2 separate regions of the Homo sapiens genome follow, and region 2 is linked to region 1. Evidence: fine-mapped expression QTL. A gene starts in region 1. The other region holds a variant in brackets. All regions are shown on one strand. Distances are from middle to middle. Region 1 holds the start of MIR548A1HG (MIR548A1 host gene). Region 2 overlaps RNF144B (ring finger protein 144B).

Region 1 (11,674 bases):
GTGGGTCTATGTTCTATTCTAATTCATTTATTGATCTATTTTTATGCGAATACCACACTGTCTTGGTTAATGAAACTTTGTAAAAGCTTTGAAGTTAGGCAGTACGAACCCTCTGGCTCTTTTTTCAAAGTTGTTTTTCCAAAGAATTTTCTACAGAGTCAGTCGTGTTATCTGCAAATAAAGCCAGTTTTATTTCTTCTTTTCAAATCTGGATGCTTTTCAATTTTATTTATTTATTTCCTATTGCATAGAATAAAATCTCCAGCACTGGATACACATGTTCTCTGTCATAAAGAGAGGTTATAATTCTCAACTAGAGGAAAGATTTATGAAATGTTCCTTGGTGTATAGCATTTTAGATTTCAGTTATAGAATGAGATTGTGTGCTCAGGATTACCTGTCTGCAATGCCTGATATTTTCCTCTTGGGCAGGCATCCAACTAGTATCTGAGAGGGAAATCCAGTAGCCAGAAGGAAGGAATCTGCTTTACATTAATTCTCAGGACAATATTATTTGACTATATACAGATAGGATAATGATGACATGATAATTATAGGCAGGAAAGCTATGAAAAATAAAGCTTGAAGTAGGATCTGAACACCTCGTTTTTGAAGGGTATCTCCAAATATTTTATTGGAATACCAGATATATGAATTTCTCTTAAGTTCATAGGCTTCAAACGTTCTAACAAAGCACAGTCCTGAAAAAATAACTTGAGGGGCTTCACCGAAGAAGATATACAAATGGCAAATAAGCACATGAAAAAAATGTTCAACCACACCAAACATTAGGGTAATGCAAAGTAAAATCACAATGAGACATTACTACATACCCACTAGAATGGCTAAAATTAAAAAGACTGACCACATCAAGTGTTTTTAAGGATGTGGAGCAACCAGAAATATCATACACTACTGGTATGTAAAATTGTTCAACCTCTTTGAGAAGTAGTACACATATGCACAGAGTCATATTAAAATGTTACCTATGCAACTGTCCTATACATTAAAGTTATTAAAAGATCTGAACACTTAGGAAAATAGGACTGAATAAGCAATTAAGTATTTTTTTTCTTTTCCTGCAGGTGAAATTTCTCAGGATTAAAAAATTCTCTAAAAACATCCTAAAGGAAATTTTTTTTCAACAATTTTTCTTCTATGAATTCACTTTTCAGTTCACATTTCTGGAGAAAAAAACTCAGTGAAAAATTGATGAAAAATGTTCATCTAAATGGCAAAATATTCTAAGCTAAGCAAAAAGCATTTTTTAGATGCCAGTGATTGAGTTACCAAGGGTGGGTATTGGTTGCGTAGGATGGAGTGAGCCCAGGAGGTCCCGGCTAGGAGAGTATCACTACTGACCCCAACATATGCTGGGATTGTTGGGTTTGCCTAAGAGCAGCGGGGTTTCAGTTTATAGTACCTATCTCTCCCCACCCCAATCCTTTTGTGATCAATAGAATATATTAAAATGACAGCTTGCAAACTATGAAAAAGCTTGCAAACCTCACAGAAGAGAAGTCTTTAAAAACTATTAAAAATTTTAAAGACACAGGGTCTTTCCATGTTGCTTAGGCTGGTCTCAAATTCCTGGGCTTAAGTGATCGTCCTGCTGTGGCCTCTGTGTAGCTGCTGTGCCATTGTGCATGGTGAAGATAAGTTTTTTAAAATTATTATTTTTGTTTTATTATACAAGTAGTATGAGTTCTTTGGGAAATCAATTTAAAAGCATATTTCGCTATCCAAGTAAACATAAAAATATGCACTTTATTTTTATTTTTATTTTTTTTTTGAGATAGAGTCTCACTCTGTTGCTCAGGCTGGAGTACAGTGACGAGATCTCAGCTCACTAGCAAACTCTGCTTCCTGGGTTTAAGCGATTCTCGTGCCTCAGCCTCCGGAGTAGCTGGGATTACAGGCATGTGCCACCACATCTGGCTAATTTTTGTAGTTTTAACAGAGACAGGGTTTCACCATGTTGGCCAGGCTGGTCACGAACTCCTGACTTCAGGTGATCCAACTGCCTCAGCTTCCTAAAGTGCTGGGATTACAGGCAGGAGCCATTGCGCCTGGACTACATATTATTTTTTTTAACGTATAGATATCCATATATTTTCTAAAATATGGGAATCAATATATACGTATAGATTTATCCTTAAACTTGTTTTATAACATACAATTTTCCATATACTTAAATATTCAAAATCACAAATATTAATATTTTATAACATTATTTCATATGTATATAATTATTTAATCAATTCCCTGTATTTAACAATTAGGTTGTTTCCAATTTACAGCATTACCAGGATTGCGGAGATTGATATTTTTGTGTTTATTTAGATTATTTTTCCATAATAAATTCTCAGAAATGAAAATATTGCTGAAGGATCAAAACACTTTTGAGATTTTTGCACATTTTGACAAATTTTGACCTAACAGATTCCTAGTAGCAGTGAGTGAGAGTACTCATTTCATCATATACCTGACAGCAGTGAGTATTATTTTAAAAGACATACATGCCAAGTTGAGGGAATAAAGTGTTATCTCTGCTTCATCTTTCATTTCTTTGATTACCAGTCATGTGGGACTTTTAAAACATAACTGTGTTAATGGTCATTTCTATTTACTCTTTTGTAAATGATCATTCTTTTATTTGATCAATACTTATTGATTGCCCACTATGTGTGAAGCACTGCAGAAGGTGTAACATTCAGCAGCAAATGAGAGAGAGACAGCCCCTGCCCTAATGGAACATAAAGTTTTTTTTTTCTTTTGAGGACAGAGTCTCAGTCTGTTGCCCAGACTGGAGTGCAGTGGCACAATCTCGGCTCACTGCAACCTCTGCTGCCTGGGTTCAAGTGATTCTCGTGCCTCAGCCTCTGGAGTAGCTGGGGTTTCAGGCGTGTGCCACCACATCCGGCTAATTTTTGTATTTTTAGTAGAGACGGGGTTTCAGCAGGAATCACTGCTGACCTCAGGTGATTCGCCTGCCTTGGCCTCCCAAGTTGCTGGGATTACAGACGTGAGCCACTGCGCCAGGCCTTTTATGGTGGTTTTTGATGTGAGTAAGTGATATACAAAAGTGTAGGAAAATTGGTCTCCCTCTCTTTCTGGTTTATTTTTTCCTTTATCATTGATTAGAAAGATATTTGAAATTCTAGATTATAAATTCACATATTTATTATTTCTTCTGGGTCTCCTGAGTGTAGTTTTTACACTTAATAATTAAATCCATCCAAAATGTACATTATTGTATCTTGTAAGGCAGTGATTTATCTTCTCACTGAAACAGTTAACTCTCTATTTTAACACTATTTATGAAATAATCCTTCCTCCTCTTGAATGATTAGTCATCTCACCTTTATCATATACTAAGTTCTTTTTGAGTAGATATATATTAGGATCCATTTCTGGGCTATTTGTTTCTACCATCAATTTTTATGTGTGTACTACGTTATTGTAGTGTCATAATATGTTTTATTATCTGGTAATGTAAGTTCACTTAATTTATGTGAGAATCATTAATTAAACTGGTTTTAGTAGCTGCTGGAGTTCAGCCTGACTGATGAGATTGCATGGTTTTTATGATGTCGTATAAAGATATATAAAAGCAAAACCTTTTCTTTTTTTCATATGGACTTTTTTCCTTTGACTATAATGTAGCACATGTTGTAAAACTTTGGATCTTCCAGAAAAACACAAAGGAGAAGATAAACATCACCCAATTCTGTCACCAGAGAGAGCCTTTTAAAATATTTTGAATCTTATACCTCTGGCCTTTTAGAGATGCACATGATACATATTATTTTATATTATCCTGCAGGGATTGTGCCTTTTATTTCTAACGATATCTCAGTGGAACACTTTCTATGTCATTAAATACTCTTAGTCTTTTAAAACATTAATTTAATGATTTCATATGACATGTAGAATGTATCATACTATATTTAACCATCCTTAGGTTTATTTGCAGTCTCTATTTTAAATGGTGCCACGATGAACATTCTTAGGGAGTAGGTTAGAGGTTTTTTTCTCTTTTTCACTCATTTTTCTTCTTTCTCCATCGTGTTTGGAAAGAGGTATTTTGGTAAACTGGAGAACAGTGATAGCTTTGATATGCTAAACGCATCAGACTTATCCCAAGGAAACCTGTTGATATGGTTTGGCTGTGTCCCCACCCAAATCTCATTTTGAATTTTAATTCCAACAATTCCCACGTGTCGTGGGAGGAACCTGGTGGGAGGTAATTAAAACACGGGGGGTGGGTCTTTCCCGTGCTGTTCTCGTGCTAGTGGATAAGTCTCACGAGATCTGACGGTTTTAAACACGGGAGTTTCCCTACACAAACCGTTTCTTTGCCTGCCGCCATCCACGTAGAATGTGACTTGCTCCTCTTCGCCTTCTGCCATGATTCTGAGGCCTCCCAGCCACGTCGAACTGTAAGTCCATTAAACCTTTTTCCTGTATAAATTATCCAGAGTTGGGTATGTCTTTATCAGCAGCATGAAAATGGAGTAATACACCTGTTAAGAGTAGCAAGGAATGATGCCATGAGTAAAAGATGGAATCAGGCGGGGCGCAGTGGCTCAGCCTGTAATCCCAGCACTTTGGGAGGCCGAAGCGGGCGAATCACCTGAGGTCGGGAGTTCAAGACCAGCCTGACCAACATGGAGAAAGCCCGTCTCTACTAAAAATACGAAATTAGCCGGGCGTGCGGGCGGATGCCTGTAATCCCAGCTACTCAGGAGGCTGAGGCAGGAGAATTGCTTGCACCTGGGAGGCAGAGGTTGCAGTGAGCCTAGATTGTGCCATTGCATTCCAGCCTGAGCAACAAGAGTGAAACTCCGTCTAAAAAAAAAAAAAAAAAAAAAAAAGATGGAATCAGCTGCCGAGTGTGGTGGCTCACGCCTGTAATCTGTAATCCCAGCCCTTTGGGAGGCTGAGGTGGGTGGATCACAAGTTCAGGAGTTCAAGACCAGCCTGACCAATATGATGAAACCCCATCTCTACTAAAGATACAAATATTAGCCAGTAATCAGAAGTTAAAGCATTCATTCCTTAATCTATTCATCAAATGGCTAAGAAGTTTCTAAAATGCTCTCTTCTATGGAATATGAAGATAAATGAGATTTGACCCCTAACTTCAAAGAACCCGTGATCAAAATTTGTGTCTATGTGTGCGTGTGTGTGTGTGTGAATGAGGGAGATACACAACAGGTAATTATGATATAACACAATAACTGATATACAGAAACATGAACATTTTGCTTGATCCATAATTAGTCAAATCACTAATCTGAGTCTCTTGTTTTTACCCACTATTCCATGCTCCTAATAAAAATAACATTTGAAAATATCAACAGGGATATCTAAATAGATACACATTCATGTCCTATGTTTTGCAGTATGGTGTGCATCCTACATGTACAGGGTCGATTTTTCTACCTCCCTGAGATAAGCTCCCACATTAATCTGCTATGGTACTACTTTCCTCCCTTTATCAATGATTCAAAGAATAACAAGCCAGACATCCTTGGCAACTGAAATCATTTCAATGTATTGAAATCATAAGGTGTACTGGTTAGCTATGGACTGTGCTGTCTCTTAACCCATTCAGAAAGATGAGGGTAGCCGGGCGCGGTGGCTCAAGCCTGTAATCCCAGCACTTTGGGAGGCCGAGGCAGGCGGATCACGAGGTCAGGAGATCGAGACCATCCTGGCTAACACGGTGAAACCCCATTTCTACTAAAAATACAAAAAATTAGCCGGGCGCCTATAGTCCAAGCTACTCGGGAGGCTGAGGCAGGAGAATGGCGTGAACCGGCAGGCGGAGTTTGCAGACAGCGCCACTGCACTCCGGCCTGGGTGAAAAAGAGTGAGACTCCGTCTCCAAGCAAAAAAAAAAAAGATGAGGGTCACCAGCAAAATTTCTTTCATTTTACATTGTTGATATCTCTGTTTTAATCCGTAGTCCTTGTGGAAGGTGGCTGTTGCCTGTTATACCTTGTGAGGGGGCTTAGCTAATCAACCCTTATTAATTAGTCACTAATATGGGCTATGTACCAACAACTGTTTTCACTAAGTGGTGGCAGCACTAATTGATGGGGCATAATGAGCCCCTCCCGAATTACGAAGAAACATTGCTCCTTACCCTCTGTAGATGATCCCTTATAGATGAAGGGCTACCAAGGGAAGGCTGGAACAGGCATGGGATGGCAGGGTCTAATTTGTTTTTAACCTGCTTCTAAGAAGTTGCTTAATTAATATAGGATTAGCACATTTGAAGGCTTGAACAGGTGCAAACACACACTTGTAACCAGCTGTGTAATTGACCGCAGTGCAACAAGCCAGGTCTGAGCATGCAGACCTCACTAATCACCTGCTGACCTCCTATCTGTGGCTGTAAAAAGACCTGTTCTTTTTAGTGCAGGATTCCCTGAATCTATCTGGAAGGCCATGTATGTTGGGATGAGTTGAAATTTTTGGTTTTTGAGCAAACCTTTGTAAATGGGTTCATCTCCACATATGATACCCCAGAAACATTGCTGCTCCCCTTTTCTTGGTTTGTTTCTGTGGCCTTACTAACAATCTGGGGAATCTTGTGGATGTTGTACAGATGCTCCTTGCCTTCGAGGGGTTACATCTCAATAAACCCATTGCAAATTGAAACTATTATAAGGAAAAATGCATTTAATACACCTATAGGTTTATCAAATGTCATAGCTTAGCCTAGCTGACTTTCAACATACTCAGAACACTTATGTTAGCCTGCAGCTGGGCCAAATCATCTAACACAAAGCCCATTTTACAATAAAGTGTTGAACATCTCGTGTAATTTATTAAATAACATACTGAAAGTGAAAAACAGAATGGCTGTATGAGTACTCAAAGTATGGTATTTATTGAATGTGTATTGCTTTTGCACCATTAAAAATGAAAAATAATTGTAAGCCAAACCATTGTAGTCGAGGATCATTTGTATATGCTGTGGTAAATAGGTCTCCAGGCTTAGATCTCAAAGAATTCCAGAGTTCTAGGAGCCTTTAGGAATAGCTACCTAGTTCAGGGGTTGGGAAACTGCAATGTGGAGCCAATTCAGCCTGCGACTTGTGTTTATAAACCAAATTTTGTTGGAAAACAGCCATGCTTATCTATGTATTTATCCATGTTGCTTTTGTGTTACAATGGCAGAGGTGAGTAGTTGTGTCATTGAGCATATGATGTGCAAAGCTGAAATTATTGACTCTCTGGCTCTATACAGAAAAAGTTTCCTGACCCTTGAGATCAAGGGTCCAATCCATACTATATTTTTCAGCTTTTGTAGTAAAATTAAGTAAATTGCCCTTTATAAAAAGTTTTCAAGGAGCTCACTGTCTAGCAGAGGAGATGAAATACCCAAAATATGTGTAAATTCCTTCCAAATTGCTATTTCTCGTACGTGAAATCTGATTTTTAAAAACTTCACTTCTCATTATTTTTTATTTTCCTGCACAGTAGATTGGGATCTAGGCCTAAATCTAGTTCCTATTCAGTCTGTGTCACCATACCTGGCATCAGTGTATCATATATTTGTTAATTTGTTTATTATCTGTCTTCCTCTATCACAATGCAAGCTTCACAAAAGAAAAACTTTACATTTCTTATTCACATATCCCTAGGGCCTAAAATAGCAACCTGAAATATACTGGATACACAAAAAAACTGTGTTTTATGGAATCTAAGAAGCCATCGGTTGTAAGTTGTACCATTATTTTATATACCACTAAGAAAGAAAAAGCACTGGCAATTAGTCTGTAACACATGCTGAGTCTCCTTGATTGAAAAATACATCCTTGTTCCAGAATTGTTAAGATGTGAAACAATATGCACCTTAAAACCAATGAAGAAGGAGAATTGTCAAGTAGGTGGGAGAAGTGGCGATCTTATAATGATTTTCAAGGCTTAGCTAACATTTTGTCTCAAACCAAATCACAAATATTTATTGAGTAATTGCTTTGTGCAATATTCTGGCCTGGTGCTTCCTCCAAATCATCCCTTACCATAGCACCTTGGGGAACTCCTTGGCGTGCATCCCCCAAGCTGTAGAGACTCAGAGTCTGACGAGCCAATTTAGGACTTAATTATATACTCCTTTTATTGATCACCATTGTTTCTAATGACATAGTCTTTTCTCCACAACTAATTGGTAAGCCCCTTGAGCGCAGGAACTGGTTTTTTAAAGAATGATGTATTCTTCACAGTGCTTTCCCTTTCTGTTACCCAGGGAGCACATGGCAATATAAGGGCTCCTGGGATTGAATCTTAAGTACAGAGAAAACCTAAGAATGCTTTTAGATAGACAGATAAGAGACCAGTAGAGAAGAGCAGATTGAAGGTATGTGTGAGAAACGTTATGTAATGAAAAGATAATTGATGACACACACTTCCAGAGGGTGCTGGCGAGATTGATTCAAAAGCACACGGCTAGGGCACTGAGTAACGAGAAAGAAGTTGCAGATGAAGGATAAATGGACAGGAATAAGAAAGGGCTTCATCATTTAAGAATCTGAAAGAGACAAAAAGGTAAGGAAGGGACTAAATGGGAAGAAAGGGAGAAAACAAACCTTTTCTAATCTCATTAGCTTCACTCTTCCAATGTCCTCCCCACCTCTTCTCAAGGCTCCAGAGAATTTGTCTCCAAATGAAGCCCATTCTCTCTTCTTTCTTGTTAATACTGCCTCCTCTTCTCCCTCTCTTCTTACTACTTTCCCTCCTTAGGCCTACTTACATCTTCTTTCCTCATCAATTCAAAGCTTTCAATTGGTCTTTCTTAGTAAGACATCTCTTTCTAGATTTAGACATATTTTAGGAATTATGAGGACAGAAAAGCAATGCAGGGGAATATGGGGAAGAGGAAGGAACCTGTAATTTATGAATCACTTTTTTTTTTTCACATCTCCTAGGATCTTTACCTAGACCTTTCATTTAATCACAGACACCTTCCTTTAAAATTTTAGATACCCGTCCAAGGGTTCACTAGCAAAGCTGTCGCATGAATTCCAGTCCTCTGGTTTCAGAACCCATATACTGTGCTGACTTTTTTATTTTTATAACATCATGTTGCCTTTCTATAGAGGTAGTTCCTTCTTCTAATTATGAAAGGCTCGTGCTTATGTGTATTCTTATGTTTAATGCCTAGTTTTCATTACTTGAAGAGATTTTGGCAAGATTTAGTACTTTTTAAATATATTTAATTGCACAAGTAATACAGGTCCACAGGAAAAACGATTGAACAATCGTGATAGGCAAAATGAAGAAAATGAAAAATTATCCAGCATCCTTTGTGCCACGGCTTTCAAAATCAGTAAGATGAAAACCAATCCTCCTTCATTACAAAGTATTTTGAATAAGAATATAAGCTTAAGTGCTCATTCAGCAGCAGACAGACATGGGCTAATAGCTCAATGGCCTAACATTTCATCCCCGGACCAAAGCATTAGTTTTAGGCCTTCTTGTGTGGGATCTGTGGATTGTTTTATTTTCTTTCCTAATGAGCAATTGGACTAAAGGATCAGGTTTAATTATAACTAGAGTCCCTTTCTGTTTGTACATCACTGCAGACCTAATTGTAGGCTGGCATCCCTGCTGCGGCCTGAGTGGTCATTAGCTTGCTGATAATGAACTATGCTTGTCAACATGGCCTCATTAACCATTGTTTTTTTTTCAGCAACATGGTTGTAAGGGTTTGAACTTGTGATTGAGGATGTGCTGGACTCATCGTGCTGAGAGAAACTTGTCCAGTTACGTGGTTAGAACCAAAGAGTTTTGGCTCAGACAAGTGATGCTATCCAAGGATAACTGGATCTATGCTGCAGCCTCAGGAATGTGACATGTCAGGAAGAACCCTGACCTGAGAGTTAGAGAGTGAGATTCTTATCCCAGCTCTGTGCTGTGTAGCCCTGTGACTTTGGGCTAATTGTATCACTTTCTGTCCTCTAGTTTTCTCACCTGAAAATAAGAAGGTTCTACTCAATGATTGGTGAGATAACTTTTTGTCAATAAAAATAATTTTGCATGATGCTTGTGCAAACATTTTTTTCCTTTTTTTTAATCAGTGATTTTATCTTCTTAGGTTATACACTAGAGGGCAGTGGTACATTAATATTATAAACTATGAATGCACTTGGTACTGCATTCAGCTGAAAGTCATAGACATTTGAATTAGGAAGGGATCTTATCTATTTCTCATTCAAAATATAGGAAGCTGTTCTGTAGTGTCCCCAACAGATATTCTTCATGACCCTGTTGAACATTCCTAGTGTTGGGAACTTTGCTACTTCGCAAGGCAGCTTTTTTTTCTTGTTAGTTCTACTTATTAGAAAGTTATTTCTTCAATTAGTGAAAAACCTGCTTTCCTATAACTTTTATCGCTGGTCTTGCAACATGGCAGAAAACTGTATCGCCTTCTTGTAATGGCATTTCACATCTTTTATAGAGTCGTATTACTGAATAACTGTATTTACCATTTATTGGTAATTAGTAATTGTAAATTATAATTTATTGAGTATCAACTATGTATCAGCATTGCACCAGGCATCTTATTTACATTATTTTATTTAATTCTCACAATAAGCTCTGAGGGAATTTTCATCTTTATTTATCTGTATTTTACAAAGGCTCAGATCAAAACCACGTAACTGGTAAGCCATGTAGGTGGGATTTGAACCTAAGTCTGATGAAAACCCCCTGCCATTGCTCACAAAACAACACCTCCTTTTATAAAGGTGAAGACATAAGACCCAGAGAAGGGAAGCAACCTGCTTGAGATCACACAGTAAATAGGAATAGAGTAGGAACCGGATTCTAGATCTTTGGAGAACACATTCAATTTTTCTTTGCCGTACAGCACAGTGCACTCAAGACCGTTGTCATTTAAGTCCCAAATCCTCTTTTCTATATGTTAAATGTTCCTGTTTCCCCTCATTGTTATTCCAATGGTTTCTTTGCTGTCCTGTCATGTCCTCTGAGTGTGCTCTTAATTTGCTGCATCCTTTCTTTCTTTCTTTTTTTTTGAGACAGGGTCTCACTCTGTCACCCAAGATGGAGCGCAGTGGTGTGATCTTGGCTTACTGCAGCCTTGACCTCCCAGACTAAGGTGATTCTCCCACCTGAGCCTCTCGAGTAGCTGGGACCACAGGTGCACTCCACCATGCCTGACTAATTTTTTGTTGTTGTTGTTTGAGACAGAGTCTCGCTCTGTTACCAGGCTGGAGTGCAGTGCCACAATCTTGGCTCACTGCAATCTCTGCCTCCAGAGTTCAAGTGATTCTCCTGCCTCAGCCTCCCAAGTAGCTGGGACTACAGGCATGCCACCACGGCCAGCTAATTTTTGTATTTTTTGTAGAGATGGGGTTTTGCTGTGTTGCCCAGGCTGGTTTCGAACTCTTGAGCTCAAGCGATCCACCTACCTCAGCCTCCCAAAGTGCTGAGATTAAAGGCATGAGCCCATTCTTTCTAAATTATAAAACTCAGAATTCAAAACAGTGCTCTGTTTGAGTAGGAGAGAAGTCACTGAGACTGTATTTCCTGTCATTTGGACTTAATTTTCTATTAACATTGTCTAAGGTTGCATTAATATTTTAATATAATGTTGGCTTATTTCAAATATAAGGTCAAACATACCTCTTGTTCC
Region 2 (11,674 bases), 53 kb before region 1:
CAGGCTGCTGATCTCAGCAGTTGATATGGTGGTTGTGCCTCTGCTGGCTACTGGGTGTGCTGTCCCCATGTTCCCGCTGTGATTTGGCAGAAACACAATAGGCTTCTCCTTGTGTGATCTCAGCTTCAAGCAGGTGAAACTGCTGTGCAGAGGGAGTTGCCCCTTCCCAGTAAAAGAGTTGCAGCCTGTTAAACAATGTGGTCTAATTTAGTGTCTCTCCCTTGGCAAATGTAAGTTTTCTAAGTTGGCCAACTTGTCTCTTACAGCCAGTGGCTGTGGTCTACAGAATTGTTTCATATAAAATACGGGTAGAGTGGTAGAGTTTCAAAACTTTCGTCATAGATATCTGGGACCTTTCTCAGGATCTGTGTTCACACAGCCAATAGATTTGGAATCAGGCCTAAGAGTACACATGGAGGGTAAATATTAAAGTGCGTATTATGTACATCTAGAATCCATGTGACTTGCAGCCTACCTGTAATTTCTATCCATTGAGCATGCATGGATATACCCAATAGTACACACAAAATAAATGTTTACTTAAGAGCCATTCTATCCTTTTGTGACTGAAATGGTTTATTGTAAATCTGCCTAAAGATTTTTTGCATATTATATATGTGAATTTTGGTTGTAAGTTCATAACTTACCCAAGGGTATAGACTCATAACTCTTTTAAAACAGTGCTTAGTACAATATCCTGCCATCTCTGTAAAAACGCTAATTGATAACCGAGTCATTTACATGTTTTCGAACACAGAATAGCTCTTTTCTCAGCATCATTATTGCTCTTTCAGCATCTGTTAGGACAGTCTGAATACTTTCTGTTTCAAGGCACTGATAAAACCGCAACAAAAACATGTAAGAAATAAAATAGAAATGCTTTATATAATTTAGTTTAAATTTATGTATCACCTCATTGTGACTTATTTTTTCCATTATACCATTAGTCAGATTTGAATAACGAGGTTTTGAAAGGATAAAACCTTTTCTCCAATGACAGGATTATATAATTGCTATTGGCAATGTAGCCTGGTGCTTCATGAGACCTATGCTAAATGTTACTGGAGAGTTCTTGAAGCCAGGGATACCATATCAGGAACTATTCAGGATCTATGATATTTTCTGAGGTAACTGGGTAATAGAATATCAAATTGCTGCTATCTCGGACCTATTGTTAAAGGATGATGCTTTGCCTATGTAATAGGATATATCCTAAGTGGGGATGTGTATATTTCAGGAACTTTAATTCACAAGTATATATTGATATCTGATGTGTGTATAGTACATCTGTTGGTTATGTACATTTTAATTTACATGTTGTGTAGAACATAGATGAGAACTCTGGGAAAACTTGGGAATGGCAACCAACCAAAATCATTTTTAATCATTTATTAGAAATTTCTCAATATTGTGTCTTTTTCTTTTGAAACTCTAAACACTTCAGAAAAAAACACTATCAGTGTAGTTCATGTTAGTATAATTATAGATTTACATATATTTGAATAGTTAATTTGCTTTGTTTTACACGTAGCCCACTGCCTCATTATAGGTAAAAGGCATTTATAACTGCTCAGGGGATTACGAGAACTCAACTGAAACTGAATTTTTGTAACAAGAATGTTAATAGTGGCAAAGTCCTCTGTCAGTAAACTCTTTAAGCTTGGTGCTGCAAAGAGTCTTTAAATGGGGGCTGATTTCAAGTAACCTAAAAGACTGTGTTATCAGAGGAAGAGGTCCCAAATTTGGAGTAAAGATGGGAGAAAATAAATATGTGCTATTTCCTTGGCGAGTTGAGGGAATTTGCCACCTTACAGAGTTTGTATCACTGAATTAGCTGCTTTTGTTTTTTTTTTTTTTTTTTTGCCAGGGCTATGGAGTGGGGGTTGTTTGTCAAACTGATTTTCAATAATTGGATTTAATTTTTTTTAACATTGAAAAGTGCCTGAAAAATGGTAAATTCTTAAATGTGTGTGAGATTGTCAGAATCAACAAAACTAGGTTGGTTAAACATATCTCTGGTACATCAAGGGGCATGATACAAACCAGTCTAAAGACTGTTTATAAAGGAGAGAGCTGGCGACTTATTTTTATTTTTATTTTTTGGACAGAGTCTCCCTTTGTCACCCAGGCCGGAGTGCAGTGGCATGATCATGGTTCACTTCAACCCCTACCTCCTGGGCTCAAGTGTTCCTCTCACCTTATCCTCCTGAGCAGCTGGGACTACAGGCACACACCACCACACCTGGCTAAGTTTTGTATTTTTTGTAGAGATGGGGTTTCTCTGTGTTGCCCAGTCTTGTCTCAAACTCCTGGGCTCAAGCGATCCACCCACCTTGGGCTCCCAAAGTGTTGGGATTACAGGTGTGTGTCACTGTGCCTGACAGCTGACAGTTTTAACTGACAACTTTGATAACAGAGGCTGCTATTTTTGTTTTAGATAATTGGCCAGTGACAGAGTTTACCCTTGCCTCCTTTCTTGGTCTGCCAGCTTTGTCCTTTCTGAGTGATTCTCTTTCTGTATTGAGAGGAAGTGTGGGTCTACATAGGGATGTTTGGATGCTATGGCAAGAATCTTTTTGTGTTTGGAGTGTAGTCCATTTGCAATAGAAATAAAAAAATCCGTCACCAAATTGTAACCTGGATGTTATAGCCCAGCATCTAGAAATCCTATGAAACGTATTAGCACAATATCTTGCCATTGTCCCATCTAGGAAATTTTTTCTTGTTGTGAGGTAGGGAAGTGAGGAGGAAAGCCATGCCGAAGCAAATGTTAGAATCTTAGGCATCCTATTTGTTCATGCCATGGGTATTTGCTTTGGACTTGGAGTCTGTACTTTGAAAGAGGCCTTTGAAAAACAAATAATTCTGTGTGAATTTTCTTGTAGCGTGCTTCATGAAAATATCTACTTATCCAGGTTTGCAAATGTACATGTTCATTTGAATGTAAATCACCATTTCTTGGAACCCCACGTTTTTTCTTAAAAATTATTCTGAATTAAATGTATATTTCTTTAGCCTTCCCTACACAGTACTAATAAAAGACTTTTCTTTCTGTTCATGAATGGATGCCTTTATGTGATATAGAGTCATGTGTGTATGTGTAGCTTTAAGGGCAATTTCAGAAATGCATTAGATGAATGACATTTTATAAAGCGATCACAATTGATATCTACAGGCTATTATGTCTCATGTTGATTCATGATCCAGGAAGTTTTATGTATTTAAAAAATTGCTATCGTGTTATATTTTTCCAATTTTTGGAGAAGAAAATAGCTGTTTAGGCTCTCTAGCCACAATAAATGTAAGCAGGAAATCAAGTGTGTTAACCTTTGTTGCGCTGCACAATTCTAGGCATGTTCAGTTTTATCCTTTGAGAACCAACCAAGTTACTGTTAAATCCTAGGTTCTGAATTTACAAAATGTACCAGAATTTGCAATACCATCTATGGAAATAACTCTTGGCTACTTTACTTCTTAAAAGAAATAGGGTCAGGGGGTCAGGTGTGGTAGCTCACGCCTATAATCCCAGCACTTTGGGAGGCCAAGGTGGGCGGATCACCTGAAGTCGGGAGTTCGAGACCAGCCTGGCCAACATGGTGAAACCCCGTCTCTACTAAAAACACAAAAAATTAGAACCCTGTCTCTACTAAAAATACAAAAAAAAAAAATTAGCTGGACATGATGGCACATGCCTGTAGTCCCAGCTACTTGGGACGCTGAGGCAGGAGAATTGCTTGAACCTGGAGGTGGAGGTTGCGGTGAGCCAAGATTGTGCCATTGCACTCCAGCCTGGGCAGCAAGAGCGAAACTCGGTCTCAAAAAAAAAAAAAAGGGGGTGGGGGGGTGGCAAGTGTAATGCCTTTGTTACACACTTTCTTCTTTGTAGGTGTGATAGTCCACACTGCCAGTGCATAGGAACTCATCATTATCCAGAGCAATAACCAATAATACAGATCTTTGATCATTCTAATAAAAAATGCTGCCAAGTGTCAAAGCCATTTGTTCTGTACAATAAAGGTTGGACTAAACGCTAAGGTCAGTTCTAACCTTCCAAAAGTCTGCTAGAGGCATGTGTTTCCTTGTTATGATTTTTTAAGAAAGGATTTAAGAGTGTTAAGGTCATTTCCATTTGAATTAGTATTCGAGGCAGGTCTTAAGTTGGGTGCCAAAGATTACTTAACAACTAGAGCTTGTGTTTCCATAAAACCGAAAGCTCACTCTCCTGTACTGGTGTTGAAACCTTTTTATTGAAGGCTGGATGCTTCTAAAATGGTACCTGCATACAAAGGTTTACAACTGATGTACAATTCAAATTTCATTTTCTAATCATTCAGTTTTGAGGAAATCAATAAGATCATTTAAAAATACTTTTGGGTTATGGTTTCTTAATTTTCTTAATCATCTCCTAGAATGTCAACATTATTTCATTTTGAAAGTGTGCTTATTGTTTGCTAACCTTGAATTTGCATTCCCAAAGAAATATTGAATGAACCATTTTATATAGCAGTGATTTTAATCAGTGCCCTAACCAGCAAACTCATTGCAATTTAAGTTATGAATCTGATGATTTGGAGGAGAATAATAATTAGGTTTTTCTGTAATTCAATTATTTTCATTTGTTAGATAATAAATCTAGTTTTCTTTAGACCCTAAAGATAATGCCCAACACTATGAGAAAAAGGAAACGAATCTGCTTAAATGCGTTAATAGCAATTATAATGTTTTATTTGTATATTTTTACGTAAACTAAAGAACTTTTGAGAACAATCCTTTGAGATAAATGGAGCAGATTAGATCCATTTTATGAAGAAAGCAATGTTTTGTATTCATGTCTTGCTTAGGTTCATACTGATGAGTGACAGCCAGGAAAAGAATGCACTACGACTTGAAAGTTCTATAATGCTCTTTCATTAGTAATTTCGAGTCTTTCACTCCCAAATCTGTGAGTCCTAAGAGAACATAGTACCCTCTCATTTATCTGCATCAGTGGAGATGTATGTAAGAACATATTTCAAATCATCACTTAGAGGCTGTGTTTTGGTGGGTACCCCTGAGATCCCCTCACCTCACTCCTTGAAGTTTGGCTAGAGAAGGACAGTTGATGGAAGGTAACTAGAAAAATAACAAGGCGGTCTGCATCTGACTTGCTAGTATTGGAAGCAGAATTATAGCTGAATCTATATACTTACCCCAAATGCCCAAGTGCTTGCCTCTCCCCTACAAAGTACATTCTCACAAGTTCCTTTTGATATTTACAATCAAGATTCAAAGGGACTGTTGACTCAGATCTAACTCCTTTCTTATTAACACTGCCAACTTGTACTCAAATGTGTATTTGTAGCCTACCATTAAATCAATTGGCAGTTTCCAAAGCTAGAAAGGGGACTCCAAGTAATGAACTTAATTTCTCATACATAAAGAAGTCCTTTCAATTCCATTTTCTGCCTTTATGATTTTCGATTTTTATCAGTGCTATATTTGCCCTCAGTTTTGCTTTTTTTTAGCTGTTAAATCAGGAATTCGGGCTTTCGATGAGAAGGAAATTAAGTTGAGTGTTGGTCGTTTTATCTTGTAGTTCCTTAAGGACCTGACATGATTCAAGAAGATATATTTCCTTTTGTGGGGAGTGGAGGGGTGGTTAACATCAATAGTACTGAACACATTCAGATAAAATGAACATGAAGGTATTTTTGAGGTAAGTTATGGGACTTCTGATTATTGATCAGCCTCGACTTATGTTTTGAAGACAAGCCAATTCATTTTAAAACAAGTTCAGAAATCCACATACCACCCTGTGTGGTGTGTCCTGAATTCCAGCCTGGCCCTGGGACTTTGGCACCACAAGGGCATGTGAACAGGGTGCTGGGAGAGGGCTGGCAAACGTGGTGCCACCCTGGCCACAGAACAAGTGTGCAGCGTCCTCTGTCCTCCCGGCCCTCTGCCAATCCAGGTGGTGTGGGGTTGGAGGCAGACGCCCAGCTGGCAATAAGATGGCTTCAGTTCTAGGCCTGGCTGTGCTCTTGACTGGTGGTATGGTCTGGGGCCAGCCCTTTATTGTATAGCGTCATTTCATCCC[T/G]ATCTCAGGTCAGGCTTAGGTGGATCGAGTAAAATCCCGAATGTCAAAGTGCTTCTAAGTGTTGGTTGTTAGGGAGGTGTGAGGAGAGCGAGCCACTGAGTTAGGTGTGCTTGCAGCTGTTAAGTGTAGTTGATCAGTTTTTTGTTTGTTTGTTTTGAGACAGTCTCGCTCTGTTGCCCAGGCGGGAGTGCAGTGGTGCTATCTCTGCTCACTGCAAACTCCGCCTCCTGGGTTCAAGCAATTCTCCTGCATCGTCATCCTGAGTAGCTGGGACTACAGGCGTGTGCCACCACGCCCAGCTAATTTTTGTATTTTTAGTAGAGACAGAGTTTCACCATGTTGGCCAGGCTGGTCTTGAACTGCTGGCCCCAAGTGATTCATCTGCCTCGGCCTCCCAAAATGCTGAAATATTACAGGCATGAGCCACTGCGCCTGGCCGAGTCAATCAGTTTTTAGCCAGGCATTGTTCTGAGAGGAGAAGAGGGGGCAAACTTGGGGCAGGAGGAGGGTAGTCCTGAAATACATTTCAAGCTTGTCTGTGTTGAGAGAAGTATGACCCCCTCCGTAAATGTATTTTCTTTTTAGGTTTAAAAAAAAAATCCTATGTCATTGTTTAACAAATATTTCACAAAATAGTTAAATCTAAGTATATGCTTCATTAAAATGAGGGGAATATGTGGAAAGAAATGCAGAATTTATATCAACACATTGATTTTGGGGGGAAGGTTTATGGTAAGAACTTAGTGTTTAAATAATGCCTTATAGTATGCAGTTTCCTTTTGCTCTTCATACTACTCTAGAAAGTAGATATTACTCTTCACACCCCCCCACCCCCAATGTACAGATGGGAGATGAGACTCAGGGGTTAGAAGACATGGTGCAGGTCGTACAGCAGGTGAGTGGCAAAGCTAGAACTTGAACCCACATCTTGCATGAACTAACTCGGGACCTGTTTGCATTATTTTAATTTTTAAAAGCATCTAAAAACAACACATTTATTACTTCAGTTTCTGTAGATCAGAGGTCTGACGTGATGTTGCTGGGTTCTCTGCTCGAAGTTTCACTGGGCTAAAAATCAAGGTGTTGGCCAGGTGTGGGGGCTCATGCCTGTAATCCCAGCACTTTGGGAGGCCGAGGTTAGCGGATCACGAGGTCAAGAGATTGAGACCATACTGGCCAACATGGTGAAACCCTGTCTCTACTAAAAATACAAAAATTAGCCGGGCGTGGTGGTGGGCACCTGCAGTCCAACTACTCAAGAGGCTGAGGCAGGAGAATCGCTTGAACCCAGGAGGTGGAGGTTGCAGTGAGCTGAGATTGTGCCACTGCACTCCAGCCTGGCCACAAAGTGAGACTCTGTCTCAAAAAAAAAAAAAAAAAATCAAAGTGTTGGATGGGGCTGTGTTCTCCTCTGGAGGGAGGCTCAGAGTCCTATTCCAGGCTCTCTGGGTGTTGTCAGAATTCAGTTCCTTCTCACACCTTCCACGTGGCCCCCTCCATCTTCAAGCTTGCAACAGCTCATTGAGTCTTTCTCATACTTCAGACCTCTTTGGCTTCCTCTTCTGACACATCTCTGGCTTCCATTTTACATTTTAATGGCTACGAGAGTATGTATATTTGTCATTTTCAAAAGGAAATTTAGCTTTTTAAAATCTGTTCTGTTTCCCAGCCCCATGAAGGCAAAGAGTTTTCACAGGTAATAGAATCTGCTTGAAGACATCACAAACTTGGGGAAGAGTTAGCAAAATCTAACTTCTACCTGGGAACTGTTGACTTACCGTTGGAATTGGGTCTAGTATAGCCAAGGAGATCAGCAATTCTGCTTCTGGCTAGTGTCCTTGGGAGGTCCATTTGGTCTATATGTGGGACAGATTTTCTTAAATGGACTCAGAAGAAAACCTGATCTGAGCTTTCTAAACAAACCTTCAGAAGATTCAGGATTGGATTGAATCTTGTTTTGGATTCAGGAAGGACAACTCTTTTAAGAGCTGGCTTAAAGTACAGGATGGTGTTTCCATTCAAGTCAGACCAGTAAAGCAGATGGATCTGAGTTAACCAGTCACTGCCTGTTGTTGAGGGACGTGCAACAAAAGTCAAGGTCATTGCCTCTTCCCCTCTCCCACCCCCAGTGCAGCAATACAGACCCGGCCAGATGCTGTAGATGTTTTAAACTAGCATAGCCATGCTTTTGACTAGAAATGAAAGACTGGAGGGAAGTTTGATAGCTCTCCTAGTCTCTTGTGGACAAGTTACAATTTCTCTTGGCTTCGGTTGCCTCATCTAGAAAATTAGGAAGTAACTGTTTTCTAGGTTCAGTACAAACCTAACATTTTGACTAAGATGGAAAAAACCTCCAGCCCCCTCTGTGAGCTCTATATGCATGAAACTAGTTAGCTCAAGGGAAATTCTCCTTCTTAGACAAAGTAATCCTCAGAAGCAGCTTCCAGATGCTGTTATGGATAATGCCAGAAGCATATGAAATATATTGCCAATTTACTTAAAATGAGCAAATTCAAAGAGTAGTGGTTGAACCTCATGGTTTATCTACAGCTCTTGGTGGCTAAAAAGACCTATAATCAAAGTTGCTTGGGGAATTTCCAGGGACATGTTTCTTCTAGTACCTATACAAAAAATATCAGGACCTCACTCTCCTTATTTGAAGCACACCATGGATTATTATGAGTGTGTTAGTCTAAGGGGCTTGTTATTAATTTTTTTCAGTATACATTGTATTTTCTGCAAATTGAGTTAAATTTAAGGTATATATATTGATAGCATATAGGATAGTATATATGCATGTATGTTTGTGTGAATGAGAAGATAAATAGGCACATCGACTTTGTTAACAAAATTTTTATTCAGTCTTTAATGAATTCGATTTTCAAAAGTAGAACACAAAACTACTTGTGAACTTTGAAAAACGGTAAATAAAGAAATAAGTTAATTAAAAAAACAAGTTAATTAAATATTCAAAGAATGCTTTAAAAGTTTTAAGAGTGGTCATACTAAAACTCAGTCCTCATATTTACATCTGATATCACAAGTGTGTCATAGCCAAGGAAGTAAAATAAGAACTTGTGGTGGGGCATGGTGGCTCACGCCTGTAATCCCAGCACTTTGGGAGGCCGAGGTGGGCGGATCACTAGGTCAGGAGATCGAGACCATCCTAGCTAACACGGTGAAACCCCATCGCTACTAAAAATACAAAAAAGTTAGCAGAGCGTGGTGGTGGGCGCCTGTAGTCCCAGCTACCTGGGAGGCTGAGGTGGGAGAATGGCATGAACCCGGGAGGCGGAGCTTGCAGTGAGCCGAGATCGCACCACCGCACTCCAGCCTGGGTGTCAGAGCGGGACTTCGTCTCAGAAAAAAAAAAAAAAAAAAAAAAAAAAAACTTGAAAAAAATCTTCAGGTTTAATTTCTTTTACCTACCTTAAGGAAAACAAAAATGTGTGTTGATTGCACCTTAAAATGAAAATGATAAAAATAAGTGGTTGTATTCTTCTCCCACTCCCCATTCATAATCTGCAGGGTATTTCTCAAACAATAAATATCCTCAACTGGTGTAAGAATGTTAATTTACTACTGGAGGGAACAGAAGATGACCTGGAAGCATTGTCCCAAGCTAACTGCTGAGGGCTAGACACTTATTTGAGGTCTCTGGTTTTATTTTTTAATTTTATTGTTCATTTAAACATTCATTAAAAATTATAACCTCCATACTATTTTGATTTTAATTAAGTAATTTTGTTTGTAGAGACAGGGTCTTGCTTTGTTGCCCAGGCTGGAGTACAGGGGCACGATCAGGACTCACTGTAGCCTCAAACTCCTGGGCTCAAGCAGCTTCCCACCTCGGCCTCCCAAAGTGCTGGGATTACAGGTGTGAACCACCACAACTGGCCTGATTTTATTTATTTTTATTTTTGAGACAAGGTCTTGCTCTGTCGGCCAGTCTGGAGTGCAGTGGCGTGATGATCTCGGCTCACTGCAGCCTTGACCTCCTGGGTTCAAGTGATCCTCCCACCTCAGCCTCTTGAGTAGCTGGGACTACGGTGCATGCCACCACACCCCGCTAATTTTTTAATTTTTTTGTAAAGACAGAGTTTCACCATGTTGCCCAGATTGGTCTTAAACTCCCGAGCTCAGGCAATCCTCCTGCCTCAGCCTCCCAAAATCCTGGAATTACAGGTGTGAGCCACCAGACCTGGCCTGATTTCATTTTAAAGATTACATTTTAAATTATTGAAGTAAGATTAACTTCTTCTTTTTTCTTTTTTTTTTTTTTTGAAGACAGAGTCTTGCTCTGTCACCCAGGCTGGAGTGCAGTGGCACGATCTCGGCTCACTGCAACCTCCACCTCCTGAGTTCAAGTGATTCTCCTGTCTTAGCCACCCGAGTAGCTGGGACTACAGGCGCACACCACCACACCTGGCTAATTTTTGTATTTTTTAGTGGAGATAGGATTTCACCATATTGGTCAGGCTGGTCTCGAGCTCCTGACCTTAGGTAATCCACCCGCCTCGGCCCCCCAAAGTGCTGGGATTACAGGTGTGAACCACTGTCCCTGGCCAAAATTAACTTCTTAAAGATGCTTTATCTTTGTCTTGTATCCTCCAGTACCCCACAATACCCTGGGGTGTTACATACACCTGTTTGAGAAGCATGAGCAAGTCTACTAGGTTATTTTAATCACCAAACATATATTGAATGCCTTCTTTGTACAAACAAATGTGTCTCAATTAGTTGTTTCAAGTGGCTTAGTTAGGTTTAGGAGAAAGAATACGTTGGTCTACAGAAAAAGGAATGACTGCATTGGGTCATGCCTGGTACATGCCAGGTGATTGGTGTAGACAGGTGCCATGAACCTGTGGAGAAGGAGTGAGATTGTTGGAACTTTTCAATTCACATTTCATGGAGATGATGCTGATCAGGGTGTTGAGAGACAGGATTGTGATCAGCAAGGGCATTACAGAGAGGAGGCATGATGACAACAGTGTGACATGGGGAGTGAGAAATAACTGAATGAAACAGAAATAAAGCACCTGTGGGGTGCAGAAACAGAGAACCTTGAGTGCCAGGCTCCCGTGTTGACAGGTTCTTTTTGGGGTGAGGAGCCATTTCAGGGTTCTGTGCTTGAAGAGTGGGGTGAGGTGCAGTGACTCATGCCCATAAACCCAGCACTTTGGGGGGCTGACATGGGAGGATCACTTGAGCCCAGGAGTTCGAGACCAGCCTGGGCCACATGGCAAAACCTTGTCTCTACCAAAAGTTACAAAAATTAGCCAGGTGTGGTGGCATGCACCTGTGGTCCCAGCTACCTGGAAGGTTAAGGTGGGATGACCACCTGAGCCTTGGGAGGTCAAGGCTGCAGTGAGCCGTGATGGTGCCACTGCACTCCAGCCTGGGCAACAGAGTGAGACCCTGTCTCAAAAAAAAAAAAAAAAAAAAGGTATGTGCAAAGCTACATTTTAGCAGGTTAATCTGACAACAGTCTGTTGGTTAAATTGCAAGGAGAGAAGCTGGAAGTGGCGTGGCCAGTTTGAGGACAGTACTACAATAGTCCAGGTATCATTTAATGAGAGCCTGATCCAGGTTGGTGTC

What was found.
Region 2: its variant is fine-mapped to the expression of MIR548A1HG in thyroid (GTEx, PIP above 0.99).

Annotation. Positions count from the first base shown.
Region 1 is chr6:18,518,394-18,530,067 of GRCh38, forward strand. It overlaps MIR548A1HG (MIR548A1 host gene), which reads left to right and starts at 4,354. Exons shown (of 8, transcript NR_149116.1): 1 at 4,354-4,442. RefSeq lists an enhancer at 9,199-9,834.
Region 2 is chr6:18,465,558-18,477,231 of GRCh38, forward strand. It overlaps RNF144B (ring finger protein 144B), which reads left to right. Exons shown (of 8, transcript NM_182757.4): 8 at 1-3,313. Among named protein-coding and RNA genes, the nearest start is that of MIR548A1HG, 51 kb to the right of the region's middle. The variant T/G (reference allele first, on the strand shown) is at 6,077.